Linked DNA regions of Homo sapiens. The protein of the gene in region 1 purifies or fractionates together with the protein of each later gene. This does not show direct contact. Each region holds a gene or a part of one and is shown on either strand. Other genes may lie near its edges. The genes, in order: SYAP1, TM9SF2, ATAD1 and SCYL3.

Evidence for each region.
Region 2: the proteins of SYAP1 (region 1) and TM9SF2 purify together in Homo sapiens (affinity purification with mass spectrometry; one large-scale study listed by BioGRID and IntAct). This does not show direct contact.
Region 3: the proteins of SYAP1 (region 1) and ATAD1 purify together in Homo sapiens (affinity purification with mass spectrometry; one large-scale study listed by BioGRID and IntAct). This does not show direct contact.
Region 4: the proteins of SYAP1 (region 1) and SCYL3 purify together in Homo sapiens (affinity purification with mass spectrometry; one large-scale study listed by BioGRID and IntAct). This does not show direct contact.

What each region holds. Positions count from the first base shown.
Region 1 is NC_000023.11:16,721,503-16,727,118, forward strand, and holds part of SYAP1 (synapse-associated protein 1), read left to right. Parts: intron 1-5,616.
Region 2 is NC_000013.11:99,506,569-99,512,184, reverse strand, and holds part of TM9SF2 (transmembrane 9 superfamily member 2 precursor), read right to left. Parts: intron 1-5,616. UniProt on the Homo sapiens protein: In the intracellular compartments, may function as a channel or small molecule transporter.
Region 3 is NC_000010.11:87,779,408-87,785,023, forward strand, and holds part of ATAD1 (outer mitochondrial transmembrane helix translocase), read right to left. Parts: intron 5,264-5,616; coding exon 5,063-5,263; intron 1-5,062. UniProt on the Homo sapiens protein: Outer mitochondrial translocase required to remove mislocalized tail-anchored transmembrane proteins on mitochondria.
Region 4 is NC_000001.11:169,861,878-169,867,493, reverse strand, and holds part of SCYL3 (protein-associating with the carboxyl-terminal domain of ezrin), read left to right. Parts: intron 1-520; coding exon 521-598; intron 599-2,985; coding exon 2,986-3,125; intron 3,126-4,696; coding exon 4,697-4,881; intron 4,882-5,616. UniProt on the Homo sapiens protein: May play a role in regulating cell adhesion/migration complexes in migrating cells.

The DNA.
Region 1 (5,616 bases):
TCTCAAACCATGACAGTGTATAATCTCAGCCCAAGGCCCCCAGATAGAATAGTCTTGCTCTGTCGCCCAGGCTGGAGTGCAATGGCACGATCTCGGCTCATTGCAACCTCCACCTCCTGGGTTCAAGCAATTCTCCTGCCTCAGCCTCCTGAGTAGCTGGGACTACAGGCACACGCTGCCACACCTGGCTAATTTTTTTTTTTTTTGTATTTTTAATGGAGACAGTGTTTCACCATGTTGGTCAGGCTGGTCTCAAACTCCTGATCTCAAGTGATTCACCCACCTTGGCCTCAAAGTGGTGGGATTACAGGCGTGAGCCACCGTGCCTGGCCCCTCTGAATATTTTCTAATAACTGCATTTTTCATATGGATGTGTACTTTGGAGCTAATGCTGCCATCTTTCTGCTCACCAGATTCTCTTTTGATATTTACGGAAGCTGAGGTTAGATGGAAGTACCCACAAACACACACACATTGTGAATTTAAAGCTTCAGAATAAATGAGAATTCTTTCTTTTCTGAAATTTATGTGATTTTAGAAAGTCGTAAAGGTTCTAGTTCATATACAAACTGTGAGAGACAAGAGAGATGATCAGATATTTTTTATTTCTACATATTGATCCTAAGAAGTATATTGTCTTTAAGAAGACCCATTTATGTTTTGAAAACTGGAATTAAACATCTGTGAGCCTGACTCCCAGAGTAGATTCATTTCTTAAGTCTTTTGAAATCTACATAAAATATCAGCCGGGTGCGGTGGCTCACGCCTATAATCCCAGCAGCTTTGGGAGGCCAAGGCAGGCAGATCACGAGGTCAGGAGATCGAGACCAGCCTGACCAACGTGGTGAAACCCTGTCCCTACTAAAAATACAAAAATTAGCTGGGCGTGGTGGTGCGCGCCTATAATCCCAGCTACTCAAGAGGCTGAGGCGGGAGAATCGCTTGAACCCGGGAGGCGGAGGTTGCAGTGAGCCGAGATCGCGCCACTGCACTCCAGTGTAGGTGACAAAGTGAGACTGCATCTCACAAAAAAAAAAAAAAAAATCTCCTGGGAGCCCCATTTGTTCTGCATATATTTGTTGAGTGCCTACCTTCAAGACTGGACACTAAATACTTCCTGGTTCCTGGTGACCTATTTATACATTCAGGCAACTCACCAGTTAGTGGTGGACACCCAGGCCTGCATTCCACTCCCTCACTCAAAACCAAACCTCCTGGTCTCCTGATTCTTGGCCCTCCCTCCTGATAAATTTACAACCTCCGATTGTCACTGTCTCCAAAGGAAGGAACAATTTATAGGAGAACTCACTTAAGAGCTCCTCCCTACCTCCCTCAAGGCCCCATGCCGTTAAGTTGGTTAGTTGGTTTTTGTTAAAGTCAACCAAATTAAAGCTTTGCCTCTACTCTTTCTGAAAAAAATAAATAAATAAAAAGAAAATCTGTACTTCTGAGAATGTTAAATATCTGAATCAGTCACACAGTTTACATCAGTGGGAGGATGGCCAAAGATGAGCTTTGTGATCTTTAGCTTTTTCTAAACCGCCCCTAAAACTATTCCATGCCTAGGAATGGGGAAAGGGCCACCTCCTCCTCCTTTGAAAAGTGCTATTAGTATTGCAGTGGACCTGTGTTAGACTGTCCTCCTTTTCTTCTGTAGGGAAAGTATATTTCAAGTTCCAGCTGCCTAACTTGCAAACTAAGAGGACTCCTAAAGTTAGAGTGTACAGAGGTGACTATGTACCTGCTTTGATGTGGGAGTAAAATATCTAATTGAGTTCTGATAACACACCCAGGTTTACAATGCACAGTCAATAGCTTGGATCCTAGGGCTTATGAACAATACTTTTTAAAATTGGGGATCTCGATTTGAAGAAGAAACTTAGGGACATTGCAGAAAATCTGAAAGGTCTTTTGCAGAAAAGAAGTCGTAGATGTTCCTTATGAGGATAGACCTGAGGCTGTGGGGTAGAAATGACTAGAGAAGTGAGAAGAATTTTCTGATTAGAGTTGAGTAACAGTAATTACTGGCTGCCCTTCTAAGTCCTGTGCTCCCTACCCCTGGAAGTGGGGCTACCTGGATAGGAAGGTCCATTCCCACACTAAGATGCTGAAATTCTAAAATTGTATGAAATATAGTATCTTTGAAAAATTAACCAACTACTTTATAAGAATATTAATTTCCTAAGACTTTGCCACTGTATGCTTATTCTCTTCCTATTCTTGCGGCAGGCCTTAAACTCTACCTTGCTCTGTGTTTACTTTAACAAATTTATGTTTTTTCTGACCTTTGAAGCTCTTCCTACTTTACTTTATTCTTACCATTCCTTTCAGTTCTTCAAGCCCTTGTCAACTTGCTCAACTGACCTGAGGCAGCGTGGGATTGGAGCATGAGCTTGGGATTTAGAGGCAGATAGCCTGTGTTTGAGTTCCCTACACTACTTACTGTCTTTATTGTTATATCATTTGCAAATTACAGAAAGTCCAGTGATCAGAGGCTTAATGAAAGAAACTTTATTTTTGTGTCAGGGAGTCCCCAAGAACCATCCCCAGGTTTGATGATTGGCTAGGAAGACTTATGGGACTCAGCATATAGTTGTATTCATGGCCGTGATGTATTGCAATGAAAGAGTACAAGAATAAAATCAGGAAAGGAAAAAGGCACATGGGGTGGAAGTCCAGGGGTAAGCAGGCACAGTAGAGTCACACAGGACGTGCTTAATTCCTCTAGCAAGGAGTTGTGACAACACGTGTGAGATGCTGTCTTCCAGGGAAGCTCATTAGAGACTCAGTGCCCAGGACTTTTACTGGGGACTGGTCGTATAGGTATCCTCTGCCTACCACATATCCAAATTCCAGACCCCACAAGGAAAGCGGGAGTTCAGCATAAACCACAATGAGGCATTCTTAGCAGTTTAAGAAATGGTGGGAGCCCTCCCGAAATCTAAGTTCCCGGACACCCAGCCAGTGGCCAACCTTGAAAGCAAGCCTTTCCAAGGACAGCAGTCTCAGGCCTGCCATGTTAATGCTTTTCTGCAGAGTCTCCAAGAAATGTGGGGATGGGAGGGAGGTCCCAGGGTCAGTTCCATGGCTCAACGATATGATCAGGGAACCAATCTCTTCCACGCTTCCTCTCCTTCATCCATAGTGAGTTGGTTTCCATCCTCAGGCTGATCACTTCAGGCTCACAAGACAGCAACTGCAGTAGAAAGGGAGGACGAGGACTCTCCCCATAGCTCCCTTTTTATTAAGAAAGAAAATGTTTCTGGATGCCGACTTGCAGGTGTCCCCTTAAATTTCTTGGGGTGGAGCTGTCACATGGCTTTTCTAAGCTTCACGGGACTCTCAGCAAGTATGTGGCAGAGATCCTGACAGAGGTAGTGCCATTACCTTCTTTGGTGTGGACTTGTCAAGATTCATTCTCTGGGGCTGGCCACATGGGCACGCATCAAAATTGGGGTGGTTTTAACAAGGCAGAAGAGATGGGCTACTGGCTGGGCAGCCAGCAAGATCTGCCCCTATCACATAGGACAAATCATTTTTCCTCTGTGAGCCTCAGCTTCCCTTTTTTTGAACTGGGCAGATTATTCCTTCTCCTTGTCCCAGGAAGGTTATGAGAATAAAACATGGCATAATTAAAATGAAGGTAAAATAACTACTTTAAATGTTAGCTGTCGGCCCCCACCTTCCAGCAGGTCGCTAAGTCGTATTCAGATACATTTGAATTTGACTTCCTTTTCTTTGGCGCTACTTCGTTTCAGACCCTCACTTTATGGACTGAAGTGGACATTGTACTCCTGTTACTTCCTGTTAACTCCTATCTTAGTTTCAGTTTTTTCCTAGACAGTTCATAAAAACTGTCTTTGGCCAGGTGCGGTGGCTTACAGTTGTCATCCCAAAACTTTGGGAGGCCAAGGCGGGTGGGTTGCTTGAGCCCAGGAGTTTGAGACCAGCCTGGACAACATAGTGAGACTCCATCTCTATAAAAAATAAAAATCAAAATAAAAACTGTCTTCAACGTGGTGTCAGCTGATCTCTTTGCAAAATTAATAAATCACTTCTTGTCTTTATGGACTTCTTCCCTGAAAATCTCTTGTCATGCTCTCCATCTCACTCCCAGGCCACTCTAATAACTCTCTGGAGACAGTTCTCCCTCCATGCTGCCACATCTGCTTAATGAATAATCTTGTTCCTCTTTTTGTCTTTGATTCTCTATTTATTTGTTTTGCTTTAGAGATGGACGTTCCTGGAGGGCAAGAACTTGTGCTTTCTCAGATATTCAGTGTGTTCAGTAAACTCCATCCATGGAGTCATTAAAATCTAAGGAATGCAATGATTATGCTAAAATACCAGTTTTTAAATGACAGTTCTCCCTTGGAATAAAAATCATTGTTTGAATTCAAAATATGTTTCTGAGGAAGGGATAAAAGGAATTTATTTCCAAAAGAACCCTCTTCTTTTGGAACTTTAGATTTGTTTCTCTGACTGCAAAGCATGGTTTTGTTCCTGGACCAAACTGAGGGTCAGGCTGCTATTTCTCGTGGCCCAATAACAAGATGCAGGTCAACTGGGAAGGAAGAGAGTTTTTATTTCTGTAAGTGGCTCCAGGGAGAAGGCCTGGAAATTATCACCAGACCAACGCAAAATTAGAAAGTTTTCCAGAGCTTATATACCTTCTAAGCTATACGTCTACGTGTTAAGTGTGCACTCATCTAAAGACATAAGTGATTAACTTCTTTTAATCTATAACTAAGGTCTGAGTCCTGAAGACCTTCCTCTGGAGCCTCAGTAAATTTACTTAATCTAACTGGGTCCAGGTGCTGAGGTGATTACCCTTATCTTGTCTCCTGCTAAATCATGGAGGTTTGGGGAGTTCCTTCAGACCCCCAATCAACTTGTTTGTGGAGGCCTGGGGAGTCTCTTCAGACCCCCCAGTAAAACTTACTTAATCGTGCTTTAAGGTTCAGGAAAGTCCTAGGCAAAACTCTTGGGCTTTTGTTACATCCCAGCCTTTGTATAAGGTCACTGGCTTTTAATATTTAACTTAACCACTCAGTCAGTACTGAAACAGTTGTGATGGAAGCCTATGTTAGTGAGTCCTGGCCTGCCGCAATCCCCACTGTCAATTTGCGCATGATTTCTATCATGCTTGTATATTTATTTATCATGAGAATCGTAGGGAGATGGGGCATCATAATCTTTCTGGCTACTTTTTGCTTAGAGGGGCTCATCATTATGGGGCACTGAATGCAGCACTGAAGTAGAAGAGGTCAACTTGTTCCCGGTAGCACTCTCTGTTTCAGAGGCTTAGAGGCAGCACCTGCTGAAACATAATAGTATGTAACAGCAACACATATAAATAGGTTACTGCTGTTTTCTTCTGAAGTTTAAGTTGTCTAGTCTTCAGTTCACAGGGCTTTAAGAAAGCACAGCTTAGGTTTCAGTGATTTCCAAATAGGAAAAATGGGGAAAAAGGAAAAGGAAAAGGAAAAATTGAAAACATTATTTTGAAGACCTGTGGCCAGAAAAATTAGAATTTAATCCAAACTGTGGAAAAAAATAAAAACTGAAAAACATCAGGCATAGAATTTAACAACAGGTATACTATAGTTTTTGAAA
Region 2 (5,616 bases), on another chromosome or scaffold:
ATTCCTGAGTCTGAATAAAGGTTTATCAGCATAAGGGTTTCTGTGAAAGGCTCTTCCTTCCTCTCGTCTCCCATCCATCCAAGTAGTGCAACTAGGCTATTCCAGTGTTTTTAAAGGACACTAAGACAGTCAGCCTTCTGAACCTTATTAATGCCTATCCATTATACTTGTCCTGGCCACTAGTCTAGGGAAAAGGAAGATAATAACTATCACGCACAATTCTGATAGTAGCCTCATGAACTAGGGATTCCTTGCTTCTTTAACACGAGGAAACAAGTTAAAAAGCTGGACTGCAGAAACAAAGTAGGTAAACTCAACTGTTGCTACCGTAACTTTTTATTTCTGATGCTTTTATTCCTCTACTTTTCTTCCTTCTTGTCTCTTCTGACACCTTTCCACACTACTTTTGTAAGAAAGTCTATCATAGATATCAACACTAAATTATGGACCTATTTTTGATGTTCAGCAAAGTAATCAAACACAGCTTGAATATTCAGTTCATCTTAGCTTTCACAGCACTTTTATTCTTCCTTTTCTAAATTGTGAGGATCTGAAATTTCAAGAATTACCATCTCACACATGCTGAGGAATGTGAAGTCAATTAAAATTAAAGTCAACCTTAACACAGAATATAGAATACAGCCATTTACAATATATTTGTAAATATGCTACATTTGCAATAACTCTAAATATCAACTCTTGCAGCAAGACAAAGAAATTTCAAAAGTGTCATAAGAATGAGATCCTCCTAATATGTCAGTGGAACAATTGTTAAAAATTGGAAGAAAGGAAATGAGACTGCCGGGGAGTTTATATAGTTCAATAAAGAGCTTCAAGCTGAACCATGTGAAAGTATGCCACAGATGTCATGACATTCACCCCTATAAAACATAAATACACACAAATAAGACAAGTATGAAAAAATGTAAACAACTGTTGATTCTAGGTGGTCTAGGTGAGTGAAAGGTGATCATTACACTACTCTTTCAACTTTTTGAATTTTGAAAACTGTCACAATTAAAAGCCAGAAAAAGGGCTTTGAAGTTGAGAGTAGACCTTAGTCTCACTGTAAAGCAACAGAAGGCAAACAAAAACAATAAGAAAGATTTAAAAAGTAAAATTTAGGGTGGAAAAGTGTTCCAGGAGCAGGAACGATGATCTCAGGAGAAGCCAATTTATTAAATAGGAAAAAAATAGTAGAATTTGCAATATATTTGAAAACCAAAGAACATTTACAACAACAGATCCTGAAGACCACGAGAAACTCAATCAGCCAATACATGTATTTAATGCCCACAAAGTCCTATACTAGACATTTTGGATGACAAAATAATACAAATTCATGAACACTTGCCTTCAAAGAATTTATAATCCAGATGGAAACACAACGCATGTGTTTGAATATATGTCCTTGTCTAAATCTCATGTCAAATTGTATTCTCCAGTGTTGGAGGTGGAGCTTGCTGGGAGGTGACTGGATCATGAGGGTGAATTTCTAATGAATGGTTTAGCACCATCTCTCTTGGTGCTGTCCTCCTGATAATGAGTTCTTGTGAGATCTGGTTGTTTGTAAAGTGTGGCACCTGCCCCCACTCTCTCTTGCTCCTGTGTAACCATATGACACGCCTGCTCCTGCTTCATCTCCTGCCATGAGTAAAAGCTTCCTGAGGCCTCCCCAGAAGCAGAGTGATGTCGGTGCATGCTTGTACAGCCTGCAGAATCGTGAGCCAATTAAACCTCTTTTCTTTATAAATTACCCAGTCTCAGGTATTTCTTTATAGCAATGCAAGAAGAGCCTAACAAAGAAAATTGGTGCCGAGGATGGGGTGTTGTTATAAAGATACCTGAAAATGTGGAACTGGTTTTGGAACTGGGAAACAGGCAGAGTTTGGAGGGCTCAGAAGAAGATAGGAAGATGAGGCAAAGTTTGGAACTTCTTAAGAGACTGTTTAAATGGTTGTGACCAAAACATTGATAGTGATATGGACAGTAAAGTCAGGCTGCTGAGGTCTGAGATGGAAATGAGAAGGTTACTGGGAACTTGTGCAAAGGTCACACGTGTTACGTCTCAGCAAAGAGCTTGACTTGCATTCTATTCATGCCCTAGGGATCTGTGGAACTCTGCACTAAAGAGTGACAACCTAGTATATATGGTAGAAGAAATTTTTAAGCAGCAAAGTATTCAAGAGGTAACCTGGCTGCTTCTAACAGCCTATCTTAGCTGAAGGGTCAAATAAATGATTTAAAGCTGGAATTTATATTTAAACAGGAAGCAGAGCACAAACATTCAGAAAATTTGCAGCCTAACCATGTGGCAAAGAAAAAAAAAGTTTTTTCTGGAGAGAAATTCAAGCAGGCTGTGGGGCAACCGCATGCTACAGATATCTGCATAACTAAAAGGGAGCCAAGTGCTAATATCCAAGACTACGGGGAAAAGGCTTCAAAGGTATTTCAGAGACCTTTGCAGCAGCCCCTCCCACCACAGGCCCAGAGGCCCAGGAGGACTGAATGGGTTTATAGGTCAGACCCAGGGCCCCACTGCCCTGTGCAGCCTTGGGATCCCAGCATTCAGGCCACTCCAGCTCCAGCCATGGCTCAAAGAGGCTGAGGTACAGCTTGGGCTGCCATTTACAGAATGCAAGCCGTAAGTCTTGGTGGCTTCCATGTGGTGTTAAGCCTGCAGGCACACAGAGTTCAAGAGCGAAGAATGCTTGGCAGCCTCTGCCTAGATTTCAGAGGATGAGAAAACCTGGGTGCCCAGGTAGAAGCCTGCTGCAGGGATGGAGCCCCCACAAAGCACCTTTAGTAGGGCAGTGTGGAGGGGAAATGTGGTGTTGGAGCCCCATTCAGAGTCCCCGCCAGGGTACTGCCTAGTGGAGCTGTGAGAAGGGGGACATTGTCCTCCAGACTCCAGAATAGTAGATTCATTGGCAGCTTACACCCTGTGCCTGGAAAAGCTACAGGCACTGAACAACCTGTGAGAACAGCTGTGGGGGTTGAACCTTGTAAAGCTACAATGGTGGAGCTGCCCAAGGCCTGGGAATATTTACCCAATGCCTATAGCCCCTTTGTGTCTTGGAAGTAAGTAACTTGTTTTTGCTTTTTTATTTTACAGGCTCATAGGTAGAAGGGACTTTCCTTGTCTCAAATGAGACTTGGGCTTGGGACTTTTGAATTAATGCTGCAGTCAGTTAAGATTTTGGGAGACTATTAGGAAGGCATGATTGTATTTTGCAATATAAGAAGGACATGAGATTTGAGTATTTTTCCCCACTCAAATCTTATGTCAAGCTGTAATCCCTAATGCTGGAGGTAGGGCCTGGTGGGAGGTGACTAGATCATGGGGGTAGATGTCTAATGAATGGGTTGGCACCACTCCCTTGGTGCTGCCCTCATGATGGTGAGTGAGTCCTTGTGAGATCTGCTTGTTGTAAAGTGTGGCATCTCGCTCAACAGAAAACTCTTTCACTCCTGCTTTTACCATGTGACATGCCTGCTCCTGCTTCACCTTCTGCCATGAGTAAAAATTTCCTGAGGTTCCCACTAGAAGTCGAGCGATGTCCGTGCCATGCTTGTACAGCCTGCAGAACTGTGGGCCAATTAAACATCTTTTCTTTATAAATTACCCAGTCTCAGGTATTTCTTTACAGCAACACAAGAACAGCCTAATACAGCATATATTAAAAAAAAAATGACAGCACTTATTTATATGTTCTTGGAGTAGCTACTGAATCTCTGGGGTGTGTGTGTGTGTGTGTGTGTGTGTGTGTGTGTGTGTGTTTTGTTTGCCTTTTTTTTCCCACTCTAAACATCTTTATTCACCATCCAAAAGAGTTAAGTCCATCTCCTCCCAGAAATTTGCCTTAAATAGAGACAGATGACTCTAGATTATCACTGATGTGACTAGAAAGAACTTCAAGGTTTACTTGCTTCACATTCCCACTTTCAAACTGTCCCCACCTAGGTTATTTCAAGCATGCAAAATTTTGACAACATGAAACATTTTAAGGAAGTTGCAGAATCCTATGTCACTTAGAGAAAGCAAGACTGATTACAATCCTGTACTATGAAATGTTTTATAGAAGTGGTTTTATTTAGAACTCTACAGTCTTCCTTTTAAATTTCTCTCCTAAATGTACAATTTTATTTCTAGTCCTAATCTGCCAGTTCCATACCTGATCCCAGCTATGGTCACAACTAGTCTATTTTTTTGTTTTAACAAGGCACACGGGCCATGCCACAGGACTACACTTTTTCCCATTTCCTAGTTCGTTTCTGCTTTTATTCCCACCTTATTCTGCTATCATCACATCTGTCCCACCCCACACTTACAACTGGATTTTCAAGGGAGAAAGAAATTTCAGTGAAGAGATGTGACTGTACAAGGGTCATGGCAAATGACAAGTCACAAAAGGGTTTGAGATATGGAGGCCATAAAAAAGGAAATCTATGGAAGCTTCAACTCCTTAATATTAGAGCAGTCCACAGTGGCGCCTTCCTGAAGAAGGGAAGTCTTAACTCAGGCACAATAAAAGTCTCAAAAGCAATGCTGGGACTCACAAATGCTTATTTATGAGCTCTGAGTTATCCGATCAGCAATGCCCAGCAACTGATCTCCTAGATAATTACCAGGGTTCTTTCCCCAAAGCCCTGAAAAATACAATTTCAATTTTAGACTATATCAACGAAAGAAGTAAATATAAAACCTGACTACTTAAAAATTACACAGACACATCAAAGCTGCAATGAGTTATGACTGCACCACTGCACTCTAGCCTGGGTGACAGAGCAAGACTGTTTCTAAAAAATAAAATAAAATGAAAATTACATATAATAGATACAGAGTGTTTTCTGGAACTGTCAAAGTCCAGGGTGATAAGCGGTCAGGGATCCCCAGGGGAAAGGCAAACAAGAAGAAGAGTGCTCAGAGTAGAAGGCAGTGGCGAAGAGCCTAGGCTTTTTGGACTCAGTCTTGGGCTTGTTTGCATTCTGGCTTTAATACTTACTAGCTTTGTACACTTGAGACAGCTACTAAATCTTATTGAGCTTCTGTTTCCTCATCTAAATATCACAGAGATGTTATGAAATTTAGCTAAGGCATATACAACACACACAAATCGTAGTCTTTACCATTATTATTAGCAAAGGGCAATAAACAGGTTTGAAAAGTGAGAAGAGGAGCAAAAAGAGAAAAAATTCACAAATTTCCTCCAAAGCCTTTCATAGATAGTTAATTTTAATGAAAATAGAATGAAATTGTTGGATACATGTAAAGCAGCTAAAATTAACTACAAAACTTACTGAGAGACCATGGTGACAGGAAGCTACAGGAGAGAATAGGGAAGTAAGGGTTTGGGCAGCTGGGCTCTAAGGCTGACAGTGCACAGACCAATCTCTGTAGTGCCGATGTGTGTCTGTGTGTTTGTGTTGGGGGTGTGAGGTGTGGAACATATATCTGTGATTTGTTTCAGACGTTCCAGTTTACACCTTTGGAAGTTCAAGTTTACACCCACTTTGGTGAGGGGCCACAGGCAGAAAGACACAATTTTATTCATAGACTTTTGTTGCTTTCTTGATTCTAACTCTCAGATTCACTATAATGAACAATTACAGTCT
Region 3 (5,616 bases), on another chromosome or scaffold:
TTGCAAACACATACCTGGTAAAGGACTTGTACCCAAAATATAAAAAGAACTCTTAAAGTTCAACAATAAGATAATAACCTAATTGTTGTTCCCAACACAAATAAATGATAAATCTTTGAGGTGATGGATATTCCAATTAGCCTGATTTGCTCATTGCATAGGTGCCTCATACATATGTACAATTATTATGTATCAATAAAAAATTAAAAAATCAAACAATAAAAAATATTACAATTGTTTCAAAATGGGAAAAACATTTGAACAGACACCTCAACAAAGATACACAGATGACAAATAAGCACATGAAACAATGTTCCACATCATGTCATTACGAAAATGCAAATTTTAAAAATGGGAAACTATTAGATACCTATATATCTATTACAATAGCTAAAAATCCCCAAAATTAATAAAACCAAATGCTAGAGAAGATGTATACCAATAGGAACCTCAGTTATTGCTGGTGGAAATGCAAAATGGTACAGCCACTTTGGAAGACAGTTTGCTAGTGTCTTACAAAACTAAACACTGTTTTACCATGTGATCAAGCTGTGGTACTCTTAGGTATTTCACCCAGTTGAGATGCAACCTGTGTCCACAGGAAAACCTACACATGATGCTGTCAGCAGCATTACTCCTAATTGCCCAAAACAAGGTGTCATTTTAATAGACGAATGGAAAAACTAACTGTGGTACATCTACATAATAGAATATTATTTAGCAATAAAAATAAGCTATCAAATCATGAAAAGATGTGGAGGAAACTTAAATGCATATTGCTAAGGGAAAGAAGCCAGTCTGAAAAGATTACATAATGTATGACTCCAACTGTAACATTACAGAAAAGGTAAAACTATAGAGACAGTAAAAAAAGATCAGCGGATGCTAGCAGTTTGGGAGGAAAAGGGAAGGACAAATATTTGATACTATTGTGTATGAGACTGTAATGATAAATAAAAAACATTATGCTTTGTCAAAGCCCAAAGAACTGTGCAACACAAAGAATGAACCTTAAACTATGGACTTTGGTTAATAACAATGTATCAATACTGGTTCATTATTAAATGTCTCATGCTAGTATTAATACTAGGAGAAACTATATATCTGGGGGGCATATGGGAACTCTCTATATGATTTCTGCTCAATTCTGCAAACTTAAAACCATTATTAAAAATAAAGACTATTAATGTATTTTAGAAAAGGTTAATGAAGATATGAGGTTGCAAGAAACAAAGAAAAAAAATCCCAGAGTTCAGAAAAAAGTGGAACTGAACATAAGAGTTGGAAAACCTTGATGTGATTATGCTACCGTCTGTTGTGTTTGTATACACAGCAGGTATGCATATAGACATATACAGCATCAAAAGGTTCTGCTTTGTTGTTAACATCTACATACAGGCTGAAGCCAAGATGCTTGGAAGGATTAACACTCACAGAAAGTGTAGACAAGAAAAAAAATTTTGCTCGTCACTGTACAAGGAAACTTGTCCATCTTTGCCTGGGCTCTGAGGGGTAAAAATGTCCTCCTTACACAAAAAACTAGGACCATGGGGAGTCTCTTTCAGGTATGAAGTCTAAATTTGTACCACCATTCAGTCTGGGAACACACAAACTGAGAAATTATCTAAAATTGGTTTTGAACGATCAGACCCCTGAAGTTCTAAGCTGAGGACAGAAAAAGTACTCTGGATCTTCTTAGGCAAAAAAGAATTCTCATATAAAAGCAAGCCTAAAGCCATCTAATGTTACAAATGACACAAGGAAACAAACCACTATTAAAAAAAAGTCAACATAAAGTAAAATTAGAATTTCAGAAAAGAGCAATTCAAAAACTACACAAAAATAGTATGTTTAAAATTCTAAAGATATAAAAGGGATTGAAATTCTAAAATAACAAGCTACAGTAAAAAAAGGGAAACATTTTATAAAGAACCAAACAGAACTTCTAAAGTTCAAATATAATCAACAAAAAACAAACCCAATAGTTGAAAGATTAAATATAGCCAAGGAAAGAATTGCCTTTATAATCTACTCAAAAATTGAATTATTTTTAAGTTGTACCATTATTTTGTGTACCAACAAGAAACTTAAAATGCTGCCAACTCAATTGTAACATGCTATCCTAATTTCGAAGATGTTAAAATGTAAAAAACAAAACAGTATGTCTTAGAATTGATGAAATACTGTACAGAACTAAATGACAAACTGTAGAAATGACTCAAAATGGAAGAGATGAAGAATTTTTTTTTTGAAGATGGGGTCTTGCTCTGTTGCCCAGGCTGCAGTGCAGTGGCATGACCTATGCTCACTGAATATCCTCAATCTCCTGGGCTCAAGTGATCCTCTCACCTCAGCCTCCCAAGTAGCTGGGACTAGAGGCATGCGTTACCACACCCGGCTAATTTTTGTATTTTTTTTTGTAGATATGGGGTCTTACATGTTGTCCAGGCTGGTCTCAAATTATTGGACTCAAGGAAACCTCCTGCCTTGGCCTCTCCAAGTGCTGGGATTACAGATGTGAGCCACCACACCTGGCCTGAGAATTGTTTTTTTTTTTAATGGGAACATTGCAACATGCAAATATATACAATGGCTGAGAAATCCTCCAGAATTAATGAAAGTCACACATCCTCAGATAAGTGGCTTAGCAGGCTAAATGAAAATAAATGCAGACCTAGAAAAAAACCATACTTAAATAGCAGAATGACATGAAAATCTAACAGCAACTAGAGAGAAAGGATAGATTACTTACAAATATAGGGCAATAAGGAGAATTCTCAAAAGCAACAAGATTAAAAAGATTAGAATGCAGTGGAATTGTAGCTTTAAGACGCTGAATGTGATTCTGTATCATTTAAGAGAGAAAGTAGAATTAACACATGTTCACACACAGGAAGAATCTACTCTTTGTACAACCTTTGCTGAAAGAACTTTGAAAGACTTCAGTAAAAACAAAGTTAAATCCAGAAAAGACAAGATCAAACAAGCAATGGTGAGCAAAAAACCTAGCAAACGTGGCACTAAACAAGCAATGCCAGTATAAAATAGCAATTAATATCGAAGGTAGAAGAAAAATAAAATGTTTAACAATAACATGTAAGAGATGAGATATTATTATTACCTAAGAGTTCTAAGTTCTCTGTGAATTATTTGGAAGGAAGGTAGAGATTACCCTTGACTTTTAAGTTGATATTCTAAACGTTTCACTAAAGTAAAAGAACGTATAACTTCTAAACCTGTAGCAAGAAAAAGGGAATAAAGCAAAAAAGTCTACTAGACTGGTAAATTAAAAGCAAAAAATAATATAGCAGAAGTAAATCAGCTAGGCGTTATAATCCCAGCACTTTAGGAGGCTGAGGCAGGAGGATCATTGGACCCCAGGAGTTGGGGACCAACCTAGGCAACATAGTGAGACTTCGTCTCTACAAAAAAATTAAAACATTAGCAGGGCATGGTGGTACACGCCTGTATTCTCAGCTACTTGAAAGGTTGAGGCAGGAGGATCGCTTGAGCCGGGGAGGTCAAGGTTGCAGTGAGTCATGGTTGTGCCACTGCAATCCAGCCATGACAGAGCGTGAAAAAAAAAAAAAGAAATCTGAATTATCTCAGCTATCATAACAAAATCAAACTAATCACACTTCCCAGTTAAAGAGAAGCTTAGATTAAAATTTTTAGACAATATAGCTAATAGGCCAGGTGTGGTGGACACACCTGTAATCGCAATGCTTTGGGAGGCCAAGGCAGGGCAGATTGCTTGGCCCCAAGAGTTTTAGACCATCCTGGGCAACATGGAGAAACCCTGACTCTACAAAAATTAGTGGTGTGTGGTAGCACACACCTGTGGTCCCAGCTACTCAGGAGGCTGAGGTGGAAGGTTCACTTGAGCCTGGGGAGGTTGAGGCTGCAGTGAGCCATGATCACGCCACTGCATTCCAGCCTGGGTAACAGAGTGAGATGCTGTCTTAAAAAAAAACAAAAACAAAATAAACTAGCTATATATTCCTCTGTTCAAGATGCACACCAAAACACCAAAATAACTGGAGTAAATTGATGAGAAAAGATACATAAAGCAAACAAGTAACCAAAACAAAGCTATACTACATATTTGTATCTATTTTTCTCTCTACATATTTACATAGCCTATCATACTAAATTTAACAATAATAAAATATAATTCAAAACTACAGTAATAAAGCTATATAAATATATATCCAATACTAATAATACTGTATTAGTATAACTATATATATTTATATATACATCGTACCAGGAACAGAACAAAAATATTGATCCATAATATAGCAAGAGTCCATTAATATAAAAGTCATGACATACAGCAAAGGATAGTCTAGTTTGCTGTCTTTTTGGAAAAGAATGAAATTAGATTCCTATCTCATGTTATATATAATTTTTAAAAAGAGAACATTTATGGGGATAGTGAAGGTATTTGTAAACCAGATACAAAACGTATAAACCACAAAGGAAAAATACTGACTATAGCCAAATAATAAACTGTAAAAAAAAAACTATCAGAAAAAAGATAGACTAGAAAATAGGTGTAATCATAATAAACATCAACAAAAGAAAACTACAAATAACTCCAAAGAAATATTGACAATTCACAAATAAGAAAACCCAAATGGCTAATCAACATGCTAAAAGATGCCCAAGTTTACTACCAAGCAGGAAAACATAAATAGGTATAATAACTAAAGAACTGGTAATCCTAGTGAGGTTGAAGATAGATATATCACACAACCAAATGATTCAACTTCTAGGTATCTTTCCCGGGCAAACATATATACATGAGAAAACATGTACATGGATATCTACTGCATACTGTTTGTAACAGAGAAAAGACAGAAAAACCTATCTATCAAGTAGGGGAGTATATAGTCTATGGTTCATTCTACAACACAGAAATTATACATAGCATATTATGATGTTGGTTATGTTCTTTGTTTTATTAACATGGCCTAATAAATGTTAAAAACTAAATCTGGTTATCTAAATATCTCTAAAAATGGCCTTTAAAAATACTCATATAGAAAACATAGCATACCTATTTCATCTATAAAGATGATGGATGGTTGTAGCTTTATGGCAAGGGAGAAGACAGCAGCAGCCAATTTCTGAGATTCTCCATACCACTTATCGGTCAGTGTCGAAGGCTGAAGGTTAATAAATCGACAGCCTGCTTCTTTGGCTGTGGCCTTGGCAATCAACGTTTTACCACAGCCTGGAGGCCCATAGAGAAGAACACCTGGAAATGAATATGTTATTTATTACCTTTAAGGGGATATTTGCTTCAATTTATATGATAATCAATAGAATAGTAATTCCTTCCACAAAAAACTTTCCCAATATTCAATTCTGCTTTTATTTAATCTTGTTTATAGTAGGTAAGATAGAAGAAAGGAAGATGCCATGTTCTAAGCTCAGTGTCAGTTAAGAGCATGTATTTGGGGATTACAGCATCCTGTGCCCTCTCCCTTCATGAAAAGGTTCAGTTTAAATGCTCACCTTGACATCCAAATTCATACCACTTTATCAACAGTTGAAAAACAAAATCATCTAAGGCCCTCCACCTTCACAAGCAAACAATGCACCATAGTG
Region 4 (5,616 bases), on another chromosome or scaffold:
TTCTCTGGCAGCCCTGTAGGAAACCGACCACTCCTCTCACACTAATCCCTGCCTGGCTGAAAGAATGACCAAGTAACTTACAGCAGGAGAAATGAGAAGATTGCTGTATGGAAATTCCACTTTCCACAATCTCTTTAATAGTTTTTATTTCATCAAAGGAGACTTGAGAGTCAGCAATATTTTGTAATGGTAATGTCATTTCTCCCAGGATACTTCATTTAACATCCTATTACAACCAACAGTTTGGAGGATTTTTCTGACTAAACCATAAAGCATGTTAGCATATGTGTGTTTAAACTTGTATCCTCGTCACAGATCTCTTTGCTATTAAAATATTAGATTTCAGAGGCGTGTTCCATAGTATTTGTCTCATAAGCTACTTAGTTGTAATAGAATCTTTAAATGGCAAAGGAGAATGTTTCTTGGTTGAAAATTATATTGATGTAGTCTGTGATTATGACCTCAATATTTAACATTCTCTAATCTGTTCTGCTGAATTCCTTCTCTTTTTGGCATTTAGAAATGATTTTCTGGAAGTTGTGAATTTCTTGAAAAGTTTAACATTGAAGAGTGAAGAGGAGAAAACGGAATTCTTTAAGTAAGTTCAGAAAATTAAGAATTTAAATTGAATAACTTGGATTAAGTCCATATAATCACTTTAGGTATTCTAGAGAAGATGAGTCATATATTTGGTTTATTTCACATTTATTGAACATTTCCTATGTGTCAGGCTTTCTGCTAGGCCCTGGTGGGGTAGATATTTCTGGTGAAAGAAATAGATACCCAGACTGATAATCCTTAAACAGAGAGGTGGGTACAGTAGAGCTTTTGGAAGGAGTCCTGAGAACACACAGGGCAGGAGGAGGTCGTTAGAGAAAAGGTATTCTAGGCAGAGGGGCAACATGAACAAATGCACAAAGACAAGACCTAGTGTGACTTGTGCAGGAACCGCAAACAGTTGAGTCCTGCTGGGGGACAAATTCCAAGACAAGGACAGGTAGGAGGTACACCTTGCATGTGGCAGTGAGGAGTGCTGATGTTATTTGTAAATAGGGGACTTCAGGCATTGAAGCCATCAAAGAGATGGAAGCAGGCTGTGAAACAGATTAATGTCCCTTTAGGTGGATCACTTTGTTCTCTATTGAGTGGGAAGGCTTAACTCATTTAAGATTTGGATTGGTTAGTGACTATGGTAGTCCAGGCAGTAAATATGAAGCCACACATAAGGGCATTAATGTCTCCAATGAAGAAGACACTAAGATAAACATTTAAAAAGATAAAGCTGAGAAGCCTTAGTGATTATCACCAAATGAAATAGAGAATATTGGAGGAGAGGACCTAATATGCAGGGAAAATTATGACTTCAGTGTTGGATATGTTGGTTTGAAGTATCTGTTGGACTTTAGATAGAGATATACATGGACCGTTGAACAGACAGGTCTGAAGCTTCAGAGAAGTCTTAAGCTGATGAGCTAGAGGGAAATATTAGGGTGTTATCAGCCTATAGTTGGTGATATTTTCACAGAGAAAGTGGGTAGCATGAAAAGGACAGTGAGCCCAAATTGTAATCCTGGGGCACCCGACCTTATAAGGGGGCTGGTGGGAAGGAGTGGCTGATGAATGAGAAGCAGGGGTTAGAGGAGACTCAGAGAGCTAGGAAGGCTATGATATTCCCAAAGGAGTAGGGAATTTCACGAAGGTAGGAGGAACGAACAGGTACCTGTTCATTTAGTAGTTAGGAAGACACTGGTAACTTTATCTTAGCAAGAGCTGTTCCAGCAGTGAGAGTGCATTGGGCTGAGAAGTGAACAGAAGGTGAGAAAGACACTGGAGAAAAACTTGGAGAGAAAATATTACTGAAGAAGCAAATGGGGTCAAGGAAGGATTTTGTAAGGGTGGAAGAGACCTGAGCATATTAATAGACGAGGGAAAGGAGCTAGCAGAAGAATGGAGGGAGCAGTTGAAGCTGCAATCAAGTTGGGGAGATGGTTGGTGCATTGTCCTGGAAGAGAGGGGAATGCTGGGGCAGTGGCTGGATGGGGGTGGCCTTAAGTAAGAGGAGGCCCTCGGATCCTTAATAACTAGAAGGGAGGTGGGAATGAGTATCAATGTAAACCTGTTTGCTGATAGCGGTGTAGGGGTTTGAAGGTGATAATGCATGTGACCTGTTTCCTAATAAAGTAGGAGGCAAGGATATCTGCTAAGGGTGATTGTATAATGGAGTAATATTACCATTAATACCTAATATCTGTATTTCTTAACAAAGTGCCTTTATATATGTTGTTTTAATTTATGGGGATAGTGACAAAAGCCTATGTTTTGTTAGTTATGGAAGCTTTCTACATTGTTTAAATTTGAGAAAGTGTCTTTTATTATCTACAAAGCCTGTCTTCTTAGGGTAAAAAGGAGGGCACTTTGACTATTAGTAAGGGGATAATTTGGTGGAAACATTTCCTGGTGTGAATTGGAGGTGTGCTGACTAGCTGGCTTTGCTCACACTTTCTGTATTTTTTTTTTTTTTTTTGAGACAGAATCTCACCCTGTCACCCAGGCTGGAGTGCAGTGACATGATCTCAGCTCACTGCAACCTCTGCCTCCCAGCTTCAAGCGATTGAACCTCAGCCTCCCATGCCTCAGCCCCGAGTAGCTGGGATTACAGGCGTCTGCCACCACGCCCGGCTAATTTTTGTACTTTTAGTAGAGATGGGGTTTCACCATGTTGGCCAAGCTGGTCTCAAACTCCTGACCTCAAGTGATCTGCCCGCCGCGGCCGCCCAAAGTGCTGGGATTACAGGTGTGAGCCACTGCACCCAGCCACGCATTTTTCTTAAGTACTTGGGGACCAATCTGTTCACCTTCTCTATCTCCATTTCAAATGCATCACTTTGATAGAAGTGAGAGAGAGGATGTGTGTAGGCTAAACTGTACAAGTAAGCTGATACAGTGTCATGACCAGTTTCCTGGGCTTTCCCTTTTTGTCCTCAGATTTCTGCTGGACAGAGTCAGCTGCTTGTCAGAGGAATTGATAGCTTCAAGGTTGGTGCCTCTTCTGCTTAATCAGTTGGTGTTTGCAGAGCCAGTGGCTGTTAAGAGTTTTCTTCCTTATCTGCTTGGCCCCAAAAAAGGTGAATGCTTTTTCAAAGTGTTATTGCTAGTTAAGAAGTTTGGTGATTATTAGTCCATATTTGAGCAGGATGAGATTACTGTGTGGTGTAGTTAATGTTTGGTTCTAAAAACGGAGAACAATTGTTGGCCCCTGATGTGATAACTTTAATTCAAACCTGGGTACCAGAGTTCACAGGATAAATGAAGCATCTTCCTAGAGAGTCCAATTTACTATAGTAAGTGTTATATCTGACTAGAATCTGAAATATACATTTGAAGTTTTAAGGTAAGGCATGCATCTTCAAAGAACTTTTACATTTATCATGAATCATTTAGGCCTGTGCCTCCTACCTTACCAAGAGCAACCCATTTATTTTCTATTTTCAGTGAAAAGCACTGAGATCATTTTACTTCCTGGGGCTTCAAGTTTTTTTTACGAATGTGAAATGAGGTTATTGCTTTGGAATTTTACAATTTTATAGCACTAGAGATGGTAACAACAGATGAGAGAATATAGTATTAATATGACACTAGAATTTTAAGTTACGTAGAATCCTGCTTTCAGAATTTATTTTCTTAAAGGGATCTCAGTCCAACAAAGCATTGTTACAGTTTAGAATTTCCTTATATCTCTACTTTGATACCATTCTCTTTAGCCATGAATTTTTCTTTATAGCTCTTACATCCTATTCCTCAGTAGGTCTTACATAGGGGTGTGCCTCTGAATCACCTATGTTGCTTTTTGAAAATTTGCCTCTTTGCTTGATCCATTGGTTCTAGAACAGAGAGCCAGGACATAGGTATACATATTTTTTAAAAGTTCCCAAATAATTCTCAATACATACCTGCCTGATAACCACTACCATAAATACTGGAAAAAGAGGAGTATCCAGCATCAAAGTCCCACTGTAGCATTTAACACCTGGTTTTGCAAATAAAACTACAACAATATCAGTATGTCACAAATCTAGTGTATGAAATTCCTCACTGATTAAACATAAATTTATAAAAAGTTACTCAGAATTCTGTTAAAATACAAGCTTTGTTGTACACTATGATCTCTAGTATTTCAAAAACTCTACAAGGTAAGTGTACTTAACATAATTAAGCGTTAAGTAATTTTCGGTCAAGAAAAGAACTTTGCTTTGGTTTGGAGCATTAGAATTTAGAAGAATACTGGCCGGGCGCGGTGGCTCACGCCTGTAATCCCAGCACTTTGGGACACCGAGGCAGGTGGATCACTAGGTCAGAAGTTTGAGACCAGCCTGGCCAACATGGTGAAACCCCATCTCTACTAAAAATACAAAAATTAGCCGGGCATGGTGGCGGGTGCCTGTAATCCCAGCTACTCGGGAGGCTGAGGCAGGAGAATTGCTTGAACCTGGGAGGAGGAGGTTGCAGTGAGCCGAGATCGCGCCACTGCACTCCAGCATGGGTGACAGAGTGAGACTCCATCTCAAAAAGAAAAAAAGAATTTAGAAGAGTACTTAGAATATGTGTAGTTTTGGGTTCAGTGTATGAATTATGCTTAATACTTTTCACTGAAATGAAAATTTGTTTTTTCATCTGTAACCTTTGATTTTTCGGGTAGATCATGCGCAGGGAGAAACTCCTTGCTTGCTCTCACCAGCCCTGTTCCAGTCACGGGTGATCCCCGTGCTTCTCCAGTTGTTTGAAGTTCATGAAGAGCATGTGCGGATGGTGCTGCTGTCTCACATCGAGGCCTACGTGGAGCACTTCACTCAGGAGCAGCTGAAGAAAGTCATCTTGCCACAGGTCAGAGGCCAAGTTTGCAGTGGGGTAGTCACAGAACCTGAGGGAAGAGTGCTGAAAGAAAGAGTTTTGGAGGTATTCAGATAATAGCTTAGAAAGCCTTCAGGCAGCAGTCTGTGGAATACAAAGTGCTGAAATTAAAATTGCATTTCCATTCCATTCACACAGGCAAATTGATTAAACTGACATATTTGGTCTTAACCTGGGAGAAACTATAATTGTTTGTTAATTTTGGGAGGGTAAATGAATAACAATAATGTATGGAGCACTTTGTGAACATAACATATAATTATCCATAATTATTATAAAGTAATTAAATTAGAACAGAGAGGAGCATGAGATGATTCTTATCAGTGGCTTTCAGCCTGTTGTTATCAGCCACTAGGGAACCTTATTATGATTTGCCCACCAAAGGGTTTTGTTAGTGAAACTAATGAAAGGTTTGTATTAGTTGCTTAGGCTGCCATAACAAATTATCACAAATTATAATGGCTTAAAGCAATACAAATTTATTTTTAGTTCTGGAGGCCAGAAGTCTAAAACCAGGGTGTCAACAGGACCCTGCTTCCTCTGAAGGCTGTAGGATGTGAAAGGGACTCCTCTTTACAAGCTTCTCGTAGCTCCCAGCAATCCTTGGTATTTCTTGGCTTGTGGCTGTATCATTCCAGTCTCTGCTTCTGTTGTCACGTGGCCTTCTTACCTCCTTGTCTGTCTTTACATGGCCTCTTAGAAAGACAC